2 separate regions of the Homo sapiens genome follow, and region 2 is linked to region 1. The links come from fine-mapping of genetic effects on gene expression. A gene starts in region 1. The other region holds a variant in brackets. All regions are shown on one strand. Distances are between the middles of the regions. Region 1 holds the start of ADSS2 (adenylosuccinate synthase 2). Region 2 overlaps SPMIP3 (sperm microtubule inner protein 3).

Region 1 (8,000 bases):
TTTTTGTTTGCCAGTTTCTTAATTGGATTACTGGCTTCAGGGTGGAGCCCCTGGAGGAACAGGGCTAGGAAAGCTTGTGTTTCTAGGGCCAAACAAGCAGCTGAAGGCAAAGACGGATTCTTAAAATTAAGGGTGCCGCTTTACACTGGATCCTGGATCCCAAGAGGACGGAAATACTTCGAGAGAAGACAGTGCAGTGCTTTTACCAACTATGCATTTCACTGCAACGCAACCCAAAGCCAATCAGTCCATTTGTAATTAGACCATCCCCCATGGGATTCTCATCTCTCTGTTGGGGGGCGGGGGGGTGTTTCCATGTCTTCCAGGTGGCCAAAGCATGCTTCTCTGATCCAAGTGTGCGAAGAGCCAAGTATGCCTCCGTAACTACTATTAGCCAACTCCTAAAGTATATTTCCTACCTAGTTGTTATACACCAAAGCTCTCTCAGAATGAGAAGTAATTTCTGATGCCCCTAAAACTCAAAACCGTCAGATAACACAATGCAAAACAGAATAGAGCCTTGGATTTTGAGAGGGATCTGTCTGCTTTTAATTCTTGGGGTTTCATGAGGAAAACAGAGCTTTTTTCCAAAACGGGGTCTGTGGTGCCTCCTGTTTTTCCCAAGGAGTCCCAGGCTACCAGAAGCTATCTCAGGGCCTCTCATGTGTACATTAAGATAGGCAAAACAAAAAAGTGGAGGAAAATAATTCAGTTGACTGAGAAGGAAAAAAAGACCTTTTTCCAGAAAAATAATCTTTTTCCAGAAAAACAAGATCCAAGAAGAGAGAAACATAAAGGCCTTTTAAATATACCTACAGCTTGTTTATCCACTTTTAATTAAGCTGACTTTTAACCATAGCGCTCTTTAAAAAAAAAAAAAAACCCTTAAAAATTTTATACCCAACTTTAGCCACGCCAAGCGGCCAATATTTTTGGCTTTTGAATTCTACCACAGGTAACTTCCCACCTGAAATTAAGTTTTAACTAAGTTTATAACCATGGACACACAGGTGTCTCAAAGAGATGGTAAGCAGTTTTTTTTTCTACAAGATGTAGAATCTCCCCCAGGGTAGTTTAGAGAAAGGAAAATTCAAGACAGGAAATCAGAAGCTATTCATGGGAGCGGGGGGACGCGGGAACCTCAATAAATGGCAAAGTTACAGAAATAAAAAACCAGAAGGGAATCATTCCAGAAGCCAGGAATAGAACCCAGACCCCCCACTGTCAAGAGGCAAAACCTTAGCTACTGAGTTACACAGTATTGAGCAGTTTCTATTGTGCTTCCCAGAAGGAGCCTACAGAAGCCAGTTTCAAGCTTGCAAAGGCTTTTAACTGCTCAAGAAAATTCTTAGGGCTAACCTAAAAATCCCCAAATTCCTGTCTTCTAGATGGTGGAAACCAAGAGAAAGTATCTCCACATGGTCACAAAGTTAAGCTCTTCAGGACACAAAACAAGACAGAGAAATTTCATACAGTATTGGCTTCAGGGACCTGTAGCAAAGTTTGTAACTGACCAGCCTGCCAAGCCGGCTTGAAAAGCAGGCTTATAGGGGTCCTAAACCCACGTTCTATCCTGTGACACCCATCTATCCACTACAGAACACAGAAAGACAAATTCTTAGCACAAAACTACACCAGATTTGCTACAGCCTAAGACTAGTCTCACAAATCCTTTTTTCCATTTATCAAACCCTTGCAGAGGAGGTAAACAGTTTACTATTTACTGAGAAAGAGAGAGAGAGACCACAAACCGGTCCGGTAAGAATTTCATACCCTCTGTGCCGGCATACCAGATTTCCGGGTTCCCTTTCTCTGCAGTTTCCAGAAGAATGGAGTGGCTTTTGATGACCCTGCTTGCTTGTGCTATAGCTGTGGGGTTCAAGCCACTTTACAAGAGAAAATCACCCTTTACTGTTTTATGGAAACATAGACGAGATTCTTAATTTGCAAGATGCTGCCCAGCGGGCTGCATGGGGAACCGAATTAACATTTTCCATCCCAGCAAAACACACATAACAAAACACACATTAGCCACCTCGTTCAGCTCCCAATATCAGCCTGGCAAAGCTCAAAAACTTTTTCTCTTTGGTCCCTGTTGTCTTTGATCCACTCCAGGTGGGGAGGGATGACCTCCGAACGGTAATTCACAATGGGGTCTCTGGGCAAGACGAAGAGCAGATAGTCACCCCGAGACAGGCCTGTTGAGCCTTCTGTAGGGCTCATCAAATGTGACCAGACAAATAAGGAGGGTTTTGAGTTAGGTCTGCTGGACTTCCATCAGCAACCTCTTCTGAGATCCCTTCCACATATACAAACGCACACAAAGACGAGAGGACAGAAGGCGTTCCCAATCAGATCCCTAACCAAGAACTCCGGGAGTATCCCTTCCAAACTATCCTCCTATTCTCCTTCTGAGAAACCTCCTTGAAATCTTCCTGATTCAGGAGAAGTCTCCCAAACCTGGACTCTTCCTACTAGTTAGAAAGAGCCAAATGAGACCCCCCCAGGAGCCGAACAGACACCCTGCAATGGGGCTACAGACACCTCACCATAGGGCTACAGAACCAGTTGGGAGAAAGGAGGCGTTGGCAGCACCTAGGATACTCACCAATCCAGACACCCTGCCCTGCAATGGGGCTACAGACAGACACCCTGTGATAGGGTTACAGTTAAGGGACGTCTCCCCGGGGCTATTTCTCCATTGCAATTAAATCCATGCACACTGGGTTGGCAGCACCCCACCAGTAGAGAGAGTACCAGAGTCAGCCCCCAGTCCAAGAGAACTGGGTGGCCGCTTGGGCAGGCTTCTGGATCCATTGCTGGAGGGGGGCCACTGAACCACGAGTAGGTAGCCACAAAGGCAATGCCAGACAAGCCCCCAAATTTGTAACCGCCCAAGGGGTTCACCTTGTCCACTGCCTAGACAGAGCCAATTCATCAAGACAGGCAAATGGCAATAGAGAAAGAGTAATTCATGTAGAGCTGGCTGTGCAGGAAACCAGAGTTTTATTATTACTCAAATCAGTCTCCCATAAATGATTTTAAAAAATTGAATGGAAATGACTAGTAAGGTGTGCTTATTCAGTATCTACTATCTGCCCAACACTACCTCGGGCATTTGACTAGAAAGAAATAGATGGCATTCTTGTTTCCAAAATGTTTGTGATCTTGTAATAAGGCCAAGATAGACAACAATTATCACATAGTATTATAATTGTTTACTAATCAATAGACCAAATAATTTGAATCCTTGAGGGCTGAATTGTATCTTTATTTCTCCTATGTTATCAGTGCCCAGGACACTTAGTTAGTTAATAGCAGGTTCTCAATGTTCCTGACTTAACTCATTGACTAGAAATAAAATACTAAAGTGTACTCTAGGGACCATTAGTGAACATACAGTATGTACAGGCGATTTGGGAGACGGTACATATAATGTGATTCCATTCCCACTTTTTTTCGAAGCACCTTTTATCAGAATTAAACATCATAGTTAATTTGTGTTGGTGTCGAAAGGGCATTAGATGAACAGTAGGTATACACCAGAATCTAGTTACAAATGTAACTGAGAGACAGTGGAATCTACAGGAAGGACATGGGCTCTGGACTTAGATTATCGAAGTACCAATTCAAGCCTCACTAGGGCAAGTTACCCAGCTTTTAAATCCTGTAAAATAAGGATAATAGAGGATCACCTACCTTATATGGTTGTGGGGATTAAAAAATAAAGAAGTGCATGACGGTATCTGCATATATGTACTATATGCGACATAGGTAATCCACTCCTCCTCTCTGAGCCTTTGTTACTACTATGTAAAATGAGGATTAGGACTTTATTTGATCTATTGATTTCAGGTCTCATGTCCTTTATCTTATTGCCTTACTTTTGAATTTTGTCTTTTTTGATCCCTGTCCCCATCTCTGTTACTTCCGGACTTTTAATTTCCAATTCTACACTTACACGTTCCGATTTTATGCTGTTTGTACTGCGAAATTCCACAGTTTGTATTTTGTACACATTCATTCCTTAATAAAGACAAATCCAGACAAACCTGCAGATGGCAGACACAGTGGCCCCAGAATACACCGCCGCAGCCCAGAGCGTTGCATGCTGGGATTTGTAGTCCGACGCTCCACACGCGCTTCCGCGCCTCTCCAGTTTGAAAGCGAGAGGTAGAGCGGGTAGGCGGGGTGCTGAAGGAGAAGCGCTCTCGAAGCCCCGCCCCTGACCTTTTCCGCTCGCGAGGTTTGCACGGGAGTGGCGCGCCAGGCCGCGGAAGGGGCGTGGCCTCGGTCCGGGGTGGCGGCCGTTGCCGCCACCAGGGCCTCTTCCTGCGGGCGGTGCTGCCGAGGCCGGCCTGCGCGGGGCAGTCATGGTACCCCCTTGAGCGGGCTGTGGCGGAGAGCGGGGCGGGGACTGGCTGGAGGGTGGCGGCCCGGCGGGGCGGGGGCGGGGCCGGCCTCTGGCTCCTTCTTCCTCTGCATGTGGCTGGCGGCCGCAGAGCAGTTCAGTTCGCTCACTCCTCGCCGGCCGCCTCTCCTTCGGGCTCTCCTCGCGTCACTGGAGCCATGGCGTTCGCCGAGACCTACCCGGCGGCATCCTCCCTGCCCAACGGCGATTGCGGCCGCCCCAGGGCGCGGCCCGGAGGAAACCGGGTGACGGTGGTGCTCGGTGCGCAGTGGGGCGACGAAGGCAAAGGGAAGGTGGTGGACCTGCTGGCGCAGGACGCCGACATCGTGTGCCGCTGCCAGGTGAGGCGACGGGGCCTCTCATGGGAAGCCGGGCCCGGGAGCTCGGGCTGCCTGGCTCCTGGTGCCCGGGAACTCGGACCCAGAACCCGGATCCACTGGCCAAAATGAGGTGTCACCTTGAGGCTCTCTCCTCCTGTCCTGAGCTGCGGCTACGTGGAGAAATGGCGGGAGGTCGGGGACCCCTGACCTGGAGCGTCGGGTGAAACTTGGGGTGGCCCTGGAGGAAGAGGTGGGCTGGCGGGGAGCCTTTGAGAGATGCGCGATGCCTGGCAGTTGCAGTTTTGCGTCTGGCGAGTGGTGCTCAGCGCCGGGACTGAGGCCGGGGTGGAGGTGGGATGCGGTCCGAGTTTGAGGAGCTACCGCCCGAGGCCTGCTCCCAACTCTTCCGACTGCGGGCGGAGACCCGGCGCGACGGCAGAACCCCCCATCACCGCCCCCCCGCCCCGCCCAGGGCGGCGGAGTGGGAGTGGATTGTTTCGAAACGTCCTGAAATCAGACTCACCGATCCCCCATCTGCAGGACCGTGGCATGCAGTGCTTTGCTTCCTCTGGTCCACTTTGTTGACATCCAAACCCACCCACCTCTGGGCTTTGGACTGTTGTTTTAGGGCCCTGAGTTTCTTGTTTTTGTTTTTGTTTTTACAGTGTGCTCCATACATGAAAGTTAAGGAGAAATTACTTTTACTAGTTGGTCCCAGAGGAAGGAATCCCTTCTCTGTTCAAAAAAAGTGAGGGAAGTAAATACATGGATGTCAAATTGAGTATTTGGAAATAAATATTTGCATTGTTAAGGTGACATCGAAAGTGAACTTTCGGAAAACGAGGTGGTAATGTACTTCTAACGGGAGACACGTGGTTTTCAGTGTAACCTTTCTTCCTATTTGTCGTTTCCTTTGACGCAGCATACAGGGTAAGGCCTTTGTAAAGGCTCTCAGATAACTCTCTCCAGTTTCAAAATTCTAAGCAGATGAGCAATAACCACTTTCAAAACAAAGCATAATGTAATATTTGAAGTTAACTGCTATCTGTTTAGGTTGCAAGAATATTTGTTTTTGAACATGCATGGCATGATATGATGGTGCCATGCTGTATATGTTCTAGTAAGTTATAGGCCCCCTTGAATACCATTTTGAGCATGCAGAAACAATGAAATCACAGGTATGTTAAAAAGCTAAATGCAAATACTGCAAATATTCTCTGATTTACCTTGTTTCGTTTTGTTTTGTTTTCATTTAGAAATCCACCCTGCCCATTCTGAAATAGCTGTTGCACTAATTGCCTCTTAGGAAACTGTCACTACCACCTCTCCCTCCTTCCCTTCCAGCCTATTATTTCTCCACCCCTCTGGCAACACACTTTGTACCTTAGCAATCTTCAGGGTGTTGCCATTAAATTCCTGCCCCGCACTTTCTTAGGAAATACTCCAGAAATCCAGCCTTTACCTACCTTTTGTCTTACATTCAGATCTGGTCATGCTGTGGGGAAGACGTATCCGAATACCGAGCTTTCTTGCTGTCGACAGCGGGAGAGAGGCTGAGGCCTGTGTGTCTCCTTCACTGACATCTTGACATCTCGTTAATATGGAAATAGCTCAGGTTGAGCTACACTATGGGTTGTAAGAAGGTTTGGAGAACACAACCATTATGGTATTTATTCTAAAGGATCCTCAATTTTAATATTCTATGGAGAAATATTAGAAGTAGTTTGTAGCTTGGAGAAGGTGTTACTAATGTTACCGAGAAAGTAGTCTTGAAGTCATGGACCAACCTGATCTGATGCCCTTGGAAAGGCTAGAGAAGTGATTGAGAAGGAACTAAGTTTGGCTTTAAAATGTTAGCTGAAGATAGTGGAGAAACAAATGAGGGGCCTTGTTGGGCAGACTTCCCTCACCTGTGTATTTTTGACTTAACTACCTTCCTTATAGAATCCTTATGTTCTTTTAGTGCTTTTTAAAAGTGTATCATTAGGATTCTTTATTAGTCTTGTTAGCAAAAAATAGATGAGTAATGAATAGATTTAAGCATTATCTCTTTTGTGATTTACCTTGGTAACTTTGTATTATTTGGTTAGCCCTAGTAAGCTGGCATCTACTTAATGAAGTTCCCCTAGGTTATAAAATTGGAATGTTGAAGTTCTTAGTGAGTGTGTATAGAGAGCTGGAAAAAATCAACAGTAAGACATTGTGAGCTTGGATTGCCTTGTTTGATGTCTTAAGTTTTGTGTGTTAGTGAAAATATGTCCTTTGTTAGAGTTTAATATATTCTGCCATATTTATGTCATGAGTTCAAATTTTATTCAGTACTGTTTCTCCAGAAGTGATGTACACATAATGTATCCGTATTTCACCAGTAGACTCATAAGGACTTTCTCCCAACATAAAATATAGTTTTAAAAAGAAAAACTGGCATTGCATTTAATGATAAATTTTAATGTATAAAATGCCTTTTTGGAAACAATAGATGCAAACCTAGTGGCGTTTTCACTCTTAACAGCGCTTAAGGCCTGTGTTGTTCAGATTCAGGATTTATGGGGAGTTATTTATAACTTGGTAGGTTCCCCAGATCCATAAATATGTAGGACTTGCATCAAAGGACAACCACTACTGCTGCCTTAATTTTAAATCAATATTTATTTTAAGAAGAAGAGAGAAGAATTAAATAGAGGCCCAACCCTGGGTACAGGTCATTCATCTAGTAAACATTGAGTATCTGCAGGGGATCACTTAGCCTGGGAGTCAAAAATCTGAAAAAGGCAGGGATTGTGCCCACAAGGAGCTCACAATCTGGGGGACAACTGCTGTGTAAGCAAAAGTGTTGAGAAGGTCGGGATGGAGAAAGGTACTAGTCTAATACGTTTCTCAAGAGGTTAAAGTATGGGACCAAGAAAGTCCCTTTCTGGCATCACAAAAGGAAGCCTAATACTGTTTTTTCCCCAGTTCTCTCAAAGTAAAATACTGTGCTTTGTTTTCTGTATTTTGCTGAGTAGAAGCTACAGAAACTTCTTAACTATAGTAGTTTATACCAGGCTTTAAGCAAAGGCTTACTTATTTATTGTTCTTGAGGAAAGTAACTTCGGTGGTCTTGGTTATAATGACACACATGAAGTTGCCTGTGATCGGGAAAGGCTAGAGCAGTGTTCCGTGTGTATTCTCTCCAAGGCTTCAAAGTCAATAAAAAGAGAAAATACTAAAGTTAGTCATAAGGGAAAGCACACCCCATCACTTGATATATGTTTATAAAAGCTTGCTAT
Region 2 (8,525 bases), 83 kb after region 1:
TCATTTTATTTTATTGTATTTATTTATTTATTTTGAGACGGAGTCTCACTCTGTCGCCCAGGCTGGAGTGCAGTGGCCCAATCTCAGCTCACTGCAACCTCCGCCTCCTGAGTTCAAGTGATTCTCCTGCCTCAGCCTCCCGAGTAGCTGGAATTACAGGTGCCTGCCACCACACCGGGCTAATTTTTGTATTTTTAGAAGAGATGGGTTTCACCATGGTGGCTAGGATGGTCTCAAACTCCTGGCCTCAAGTGATCCGCCCACCTTGGCCTCCCAAAGTGCTGGGATTACAGGCATGAGCCACTGCACCCGGCCAGAAATATGTCTCATTTTATAGTACATTGCTTTTCCTTTTATATTATAGTTATAAGACTGTAATGAGATAGGTTGGTGTAAAAGTAATTGCGGTTTTTGCTATGACTTTACTTTCAATGGCAAAAACTGCAATTACTTTTGCACCAACCTAATATTTTTAAATTATATGTGGTTGGTTTATATTATTTACAGATTTTATTTCAGAAGAATAGCAGAGATATTACAAAATATCTATTATTAAAAAGGGGGTATTGTGTCTGAAAGTTTGAGAACTACTGATGGAGGTGATAGGAATCTTTGTGAGGTTTGCTGTTGTTTGTTTTGTTTGCTTTTAGAGATGGAGTCTCACTGTTGCCCAGGCTATAGTGCAGTGTGATCATAGCTCACTGTAGCCTCTAACTCCTGGGATCCAGAGATCCTCCTGTTTCAGCTTCCTAAGTAGCTGGGAGGGACTACAGGCATGTACCATATGCCTGGCATGCATATATATATATATATAATTTTTTTTTGTAGTTTCACTATGTTGCCCAGGCTACTTTGTGAGATGTTTAACAAGGTTCATGACATGGTAGAGAAAGATCTTTTTTGATGGCAATGTGGAAAACCATTTTTTTTAAAAGACAGGGTCTCATTATGTTGCCCAGCCTGGTCTGGAACTCCTGGGCTCAAGTGATTCTCCCGCCTTGACCTCCCGAAGTGCTGGGATTGCAGGTGCGAGCCGCTGCACCCAGCCAGAAAACAAATTTGAAGACCATGTGACTAAAAGCAGAAAGACTGCTTAGGAAGTGATTGTAGTGCTTTATGTGGGACATGACGAAGCTCTGATATGATGGAAATGTGGATGGAGAGGATAGGGCTGATTGAGGATATTTTAGGAGATAGGATGGAGGGTAAAAGACAGGGAAGTGTCCAAGACAAAGCTGCATCTTCAGGCATTGGAAAGAATCCTGCCTTTCCCCAAGAGAGGGAACACAATAAATGGCCATCATTGGGAAGGTGACTTTATTGAGTTTGTGATGCCTGGACATGTGGGGTCTTTCGGGATGTCCCACAGATTCTGAGCAGTCAGTAGATGCCATAAAAATTCAAAGTCAGGAGGCTGGGCTCGCGCCTGTAATCCCAGCACTTTGGGAGGCCAAGGCGGGCGGATCGCAAGGTCAGGAGTTCGAGACCATCCTGGCTAACGCGGTGAAACCCAGTCTCTACTAAAAATACAAAAAATTAGCCAGGTGTGGTGGCGGGCACCTGTAGTCCCAGCTATTTGGGAGGCTGGGGCAGGAGAATGGTGTGAACCTGGAAGGTGGGGCTTGCAGTGAGCTGAGATCGTGCCACTGCACTCCAGCCTGGGGGACAGAGTGAGACTCCATCTCAAAAAAAAAAAAAAAAATTCAGAGTCAGTAGAAAGTAGCACATCATTTTGCATAACGTATCTCACTAAATATGTGTTAGATAATGGATGAAAACTGAAACTATGCCTTCAGTTCGACTCAACCAACATTTATTGAATGCACACAAAACACCCTGCACTATGCTAGGCTCTGCAGATACAAAGCTGACTAAGAAGCAGCGCTTGTCCTCAAAAAGCTCTTCACATGCTGAAATAGTGATCTGAATAAAGGGTCCATAGGACACAGAAGAGGGAGGAGTATCTAGATCTAGGACTCGGATAAGCAAAGGGGTTGGGGAAGAGATTCCAAGCAAAGGGAATTATAGGGGCCAAGACATGGACAGAATTAGGTTCTGAGTGGAGTGTATGAGGGCTAGAGTGGGCCTGACTGTCTAGCATGAAAGGCAAGCACTGAGCAGGGCGAGTTCTGTCTCTGTCTGTGCAAAGACGACCTCTGGGAGCTCTGATTTGCAGAAAAACCACAGGCTGTCTGGGCCTGCCCAGTGGCTGGGATAATATGACTGAGCCCTGGATGGTAAATAACAATGGGGTATTAAGTCATAAGAAGAGAGAGGAACTGGCACAATAAAGGGAACAAATGACATTTCTGAATGCACAGGGGTGGGACACGTAGCTTTCTTAGGCACCTATCCATTTTCTGAAGCACCACCTTGGAATATTACCCCAGGGCCACATTACAGTTTAAGAACCCACCTAAAGGATGCTGGTTTCTACAGTTGCTGGGCTGTGGGCGGTGGGCTGGGTTTTGACCATGGCGTGCATACAAACAAACACCTGCTGAATACAGGTGAGTAAACTCAGCGCTGCTCCTTAGAAGCAGTCAGTAAAAGCTGATTTGAGGATAAAGAATCCCAGCACCAGCACCAAGTAATCCTCCCTGCCACCGCCCCTTGGCAGTGTCTCTTGGCAGGTTTTGGGAGGAGTGAAAAGAAAATGGGAAGGTGTGTGTAAGGAGATGGGTGTGGAGAGAGGGATGGCTGGGTGGAGAAGAGAGTTTTGACCTCCTAAGGGGAAATGTCTAGCCAGGCCAGAGGCTGTGCATTACCCGGCCTCAGTGAATGATTGTGAAAGCACGTGCGGACTCTTCAGACTTGGCTGTGGAGGCCAGCCCAGCTCAGGGCTCTGCTCAGAGTGATTCTGTTGAACCCGGGTTTTAACCAGCTGTAGAAAGCCCTTTCCTTCTCACTGGGCAGGTGCAGGCACCGTGCGTGATTTTGAGTCCCTGATGGCTTGGCTTTTTGAGGTGATGTATTCAGTCCACATGAGAGCAAACCTGTTCCCTGGGAGGGTGGCTGTAAATGGAGTGGGATCTGGGCTTAGCCACAGTCAAAATTCAATATCTATAGGAGAGGCCAGAGGTGTCGGTCCCTCCAGAGCCTGGCCCCACAGCCCCAGGTAGCCTGTGTTCCTGTGACCACGCTCTTCTCTGTTACGGCCCTGCTGGGGCTCATCCTCTACAGAGCATTTTTACAGAAATGATCTCACTTAATCCTCACAGTCACCTTGCAAGGTAAACATGATTAACTCTCTGCTTTATAAGAATAGCCCAAGTCTCAGAAGGGTTAAGTGGACTTTTTAAGTAGTAAAGTCCACTTAAACAAGTAAATGCCAGCGCCGTGTATCAAACCCAGTTCTCCAAACTCCATGTCGCTATTCTGCCACCCGAGGGTATGTGTGATGATTTGTTTTAATAAGAATTCAGTGCTATTTTCATACAAACTCTGTGATTCTCTCATTTTGGGGCAGACAGCAAATAGACATTGTACACTAAAAAATAGGAAAAGCCATAAAGACACAGCAGTGTTAGCTGGAAGATGCTTTTAACTCAACGAAAAGCACTCACTGCAAGCTCTGCTGTGCCTCCAGTGGGCTAGGCACTAGGGATACAGTGATGACAATGTTGTCTTTCCACTCAAGAGTTCATAATCTGGTCAGGAAAGCCACGTTTAGGCAACTATCTAATCACAGACGATGTGGTGAGTGCTACGCCTGATAAGAAACTGAGGCTCAGGGGAAGTAAATAACTTAGCTAAGGACATGAGCTAGTAAGTCCAGAAGACAGAACTAAAGGAAGGACTAGGAAGCCTCCAGACCTGTGCCCTCATCTCCCAGGCTCTGCCGGCTCCACAAGAATCTCCTCAAGGGAGTGGGGAGCCTCAGTTTCCTCATCAGTAAAATGGGAATGATACTGTCTTCTCCTTTAATGATTGCATGAGAGTAAACGAGACATTTGTACTTGGTGGCTAACATCTCCCAAGGTGTTGGTATTGATACAGGAGATGGAAATTATTTAGGCAGATGGAAAGGGCAACAGAGTCCTCGGCGGAATTTCCCTTTTAACAAAAAGCAGCCCCAAAGTCATTTATTTTCTAACAAAGAGTAGCCTGTAAAATCATGCTGCAGACATGAATAAGCAAGCTGGAAACTTGTGTGGGTGAATGCTGGCAGCTGTGCCCATAGAAAAGGGCTACCTGAGGGCCAGCATGTTCAACATGGAGGCGCCATCTTCCCCTTTCTCTGTCACCACGTGTATAGTACAAACAAAAACAGGCAACTGAACGTGACCCGGCTAGGCAGAGAACCCATCTACATAATAAAAGATTAGGGTGGGGCGGCCAGCTTCTTCACGTGCCATGCAAACAGCACACCTAGTCCTAACCAGTTCTTCCCACATTATGCAAACACCACACCTAGTCCTAACCAGTTCTTCTCACGTTATGCAAATGGCACACCTGGTCCAACCAATCTTTCGTGCCCTATGTAAATCAGACACCACCTCCTCAAGCTC[G/A]GTTATAAAACCTGCACTTCACCAGGGACCAGAAGACCCACTGCGACTCCCTCTCTCTGTAAGAGAGAGATTTTCTCTTTCTTTAGCCTATTAAACCTCCGCTCTTAACCTCACTCCTTGTGTGTTCACGTCCTTGATTTCTTTGGCGTGTGGCAATGAACCACGGGTTGTACCCCAGAGAAATGACGCTGCTCCAATATCATCCCACGCAGGATGGGCTGACCACACAGTTGCCTCTGGATCTTCAGAGACTGTTTCGATCAAAGTTTTAAAAGTCTATTTAAATCACACACAAATTCTGTATCTTCGATCTTCTACAACACACTGAATTTAATCCACTTAAAGTGATCTTTTCAGGAGTATCCTGGGTTCCACAAACCAATGCCACACCCAGCCCTTCTCTGAGTGACAGGCCTCCAGCCTGTAGCCAGGGGATGGCACCAGTAAACAGTTGCATATAATATGATTTTTTTTTTTGAGACGGAGTCTGGCTCTGTCGCCAGGCTGGAGTGCAGTGGTGCAATCTTGGCTCACTGCCACCTCTGCCTTCCCAGGTTCAAGCAATTCTCCTGCCTCAGCCTCCCGAGAGGCTGGGACTACAGGTGTGTGCCATCACGCCCTGCTAATTTTTTGTATTTTTAGTAGAGACGGGGTTTTACCATGTTGGCCAGGATGGTCTCAATCTTTTGACCTCATGATCCGCCTGCCTCGCCTGCCATAGTGCTGGGATCACTGGCGTCAGCCACCGCACCCGGCCAATATGATGATGAATACAAGAATTTTATGTGGCCACTACTAAGTGTGAACCATTTAATATTTACTTTTATTTAGTGTCCCAAAACCTCAGTTTTCTGTAGCGTAGCTCTGAGGCTTGGCCATTTAAGGATGAATTGGATACATGCTTGTGCAGAACCACACAAGGGCAGGCTCAGGTGCCATCAGTCACCAGGGGTACACACCACACATAAACGATTGGATAACTTTGCTCACTCATTCATTTCAATATTTTCAACAACCGTGCCTACAGGGCCTACCAGGAATGGTAATCTGCAAGGCAGAGGTCATGATAGTGAGTTGCAGAGAAAGGGAAGTAAGCCCTGCCTGGAGGGCTAACCTGGAGATGTGGCAAAATGCAGTGACCACAAGCACAGACGTGAGTTTAAGTCCCATGTCCGCCAGTCAGTAGCTGTGGGATCTGGGGCAGTCATTTAACCACACCGTGCCTTGGTTTCCTCATATGAAACTCACAGTAGTGAAGGTTAAAGGAGTTCAGATGCACCTAGAACAGTGCTTGGCACAGAGTAAGAGCTTCAGAAGTGTTTACCATTATTATTCCAGGGGGTGAGACAGGCAGGATATAAAGAAACAGATAAAGTAGGCCAGGTGCAGTGGCTCAAGCCTGTAATCCCAGCACTTTGGGAGGCCAAGTTGAGTGGATCATTTGAGGTCAGGAGTTCGAGACCAGCCTGGCCAACATGGTGAAACCTTGTCTCTACTAAAAATAAAAAATTAGCCAGGTGTGGTGGTGGGCGCCTGTAGTCCCAGCACTCGAGAGGCTGAGGCATGAAAATCACTTGAACTCAGGAGGCAGAAGTTGCAGTGAACCAAGATCATACCACTGCACTCCAGCCTGGGTGACAGCGCAAGACTTTGTCTCAAAAAAACAAAAACAAAACAAAACAAAACAAAAAACCAAAAACCTTTCCTTCCTGAAACCCGGATGAGGAGGAAGCAGGGGAGAGAGGAATGGAGTTGGCTCCAGTATTTCCTGATTGTCTCCCCACAGCGTTTGCTCTTTCTGTGTGTGTTTGAGATCTGTTTTGTTCACTGAGAGGCCTATTTAACTGTGGTCTTATCTGGGGAAAATGGAAACAAACCTCCATTGGCCACTCCTGCCTAGTGCTCTGTGGTGTCTGGACCTGGCCGGGAGTCCGGGGGTTTGGGTGGAACTGAGCACAGCAGGCCCTGGGGCCCCTGGAGGCCTAAGGCTGGGCTGTCTTCTGCTCTCTGGGGCTTGTCCTCCGAGCCGCACGTGGGTTGGGGGGCACACTGACGGCTCCGGCTCTTCCTGCACCTGAACTAGTCTTGTTGCCCCCACCCTCCGCCCATAGTGCGCACCGTGAGGCAGCTCTGTGTGCCTCTCCTGACCTGTGGGTCCAATCAGCAAGTCCGTGCATTCCCCCTCCAGGCTGGATCTCCCATGGGACGGCTTCTCCAGCCCACGGCCACCCCTTGGTCCAGCTCACCATTGCCTCCCCCTGCTCTCTGCAATAACCCCCACTCTTGTCCTCAGACAATCTGTTCTCAGAGTGAGCTTCATAAAAGTAAATCGGATCAGGGCCCTCCATTGCATAAAACCCTTCAACCCATTGCATGTATAATAGCATAAAACCCAGACTCACTATTGTAGGCCACAAAGCCCTCCGGGAACTTCTCCTGCCTCTACCGTCCCAACCTTCTCCCAGCTCCAGCCCCTGTGTCATCATGTCATGGCTTCTTTCATGAATCAGGGATTTTGGACCTGCACTTCCTCCTCCCTAGACCGCACCCTTCTCCCACCCCCTGCCCCTATCACCCAGCATCATGCTCGGCTGACAACTGCTGAGAGAGCTGTTCCCTGAACACCCTGGCTAGAGAAGGTATTCTCCTTCTGCCTACCTCTCCACCTGATTATTCTCCCTCACACCCTTTTTCATTTCCTTTATCACAACTTCCAATTATTCTATCTGTTTAGTTTTTCTTTCTTTCTTTTTTTTGAGACAGAGTCTCATTCTGTTGCCCACACTGGAGTGCAGTAGTGCGATCTCGGCTCATCGCAACCTCTGCCTCCTGGGTTCAAGCGATTCTCCTGCCTCAGCTTCCCGAGTAGCTGGGATTCCAGGTGTGTGCCACCACGCCTGGCTAATTTTTGTATTTTTAGTAGAGACAGGGTTTCACCATGTTGGCCAGGCTGGTCTCGAACTCCTGACCTCAAGTGATCCACCCGCCTTGGCCTCCCAAAGTGCTGGGATTACAGGCACGAGCCACTGCATCAGGTCTTAAAAGAAAATTCTTAAGATGTAGCCAGGAAGGACACATCCATCCATTCACTCCTTCTGTAGTTTCTGGAAGAAGGACTTCTCTTTTGTTGACCAAACATGGCTAAAATAACTCAATATTAAAATAAACATGAGGCTGGGTGTTGTGGCTCACACCCATAATCCCACACTTTGTGATACCAAGTGGGAGGACTGCTTGAGGCCAGGAGTTCCAGACAGTCTGGGCAACATAGTGAGACCTGGTCTCTACAAAAAATTTAAAAATTAGCCAGGCAGCTTGTAGCCCTAGCTACTCAGGAGACTAAGGCAGCAGGAAGATCAGTTGAGCCCAGGAGTTTGAAGTTGGACTGAGCTATGATCCAGCCACTTCACTCCAGCCTGGGCAACAGAGCCAGACTTTGTCTCTAATAAATAAATAAAAATAAAATAAACTAAACACGAGGCTTGCTCAAAGCCACAAAGCCAACGGGGCTACAGGAGGCTGACCCCCATGTCATGGTGTGAGGTTGCTGTCACAAATTTATAGCTACTACACTGCTGCAGACCCGTCGAGGTGGTGAAGGGGGAGTGGGGTTAGGATTTACGGACTGTCATCTGATACCAAATTTAGCACAACAAGACAGATCTAGGGCTTGTTATTCTTGTGCCATAGAGGACCTTGAAGAAAGAGCGAAACAGCTCCTTAGTTTCCATCTGTGCCGTCAGCTCTCATCAGAGGAAGCACAGGAGCAGTTTGTTTTCCCACAAGCAGAGTAAAATGGTCCAATCCAAAATGTGGGCTTGGATTGCTCAGACTTCTCACTAAAGCTCTTCCCAAGCAAAAACCAATATCCTTCTGGTCTTTTGGGAATTTGGAGTTGCCTGTTTGCTTGGATTCTGCAGTGAGTGTGAGGCTTCTTTTTCTTACAACTTTCCCTAAACCCAATGTGGAGGCTAGAGCAACTCTATGTTGGATGCTAATTCACCATGTTGGCTT

What was found. PIP is the estimated chance that this variant, and not a neighbour inherited with it, causes the effect.
Region 2: its variant is fine-mapped to the expression of ADSS2 in sun-exposed skin (GTEx, PIP above 0.99).

Annotation. Positions count from the first base shown.
Region 1 is chr1:244,448,387-244,456,386 of GRCh38, reverse strand. ADSS2 (adenylosuccinate synthase 2) reads left to right here and starts at 4,478. Exons shown (of 13, transcript NM_001126.5): 1 at 4,478-4,752. The coding sequence starts at 4,570. It also overlaps a transcript of CATSPERE not described here. RefSeq lists silencers at 4,089-4,578, 5,019-5,298.
Region 2 is chr1:244,365,622-244,374,146 of GRCh38, reverse strand. All of the region lies in intron 2 of SPMIP3 (sperm microtubule inner protein 3), which reads right to left. Among named protein-coding and RNA genes, the nearest start is that of SPMIP3, 17 kb to the right of the region's middle. The variant G/A (reference allele first, on the strand shown) is at 4,512.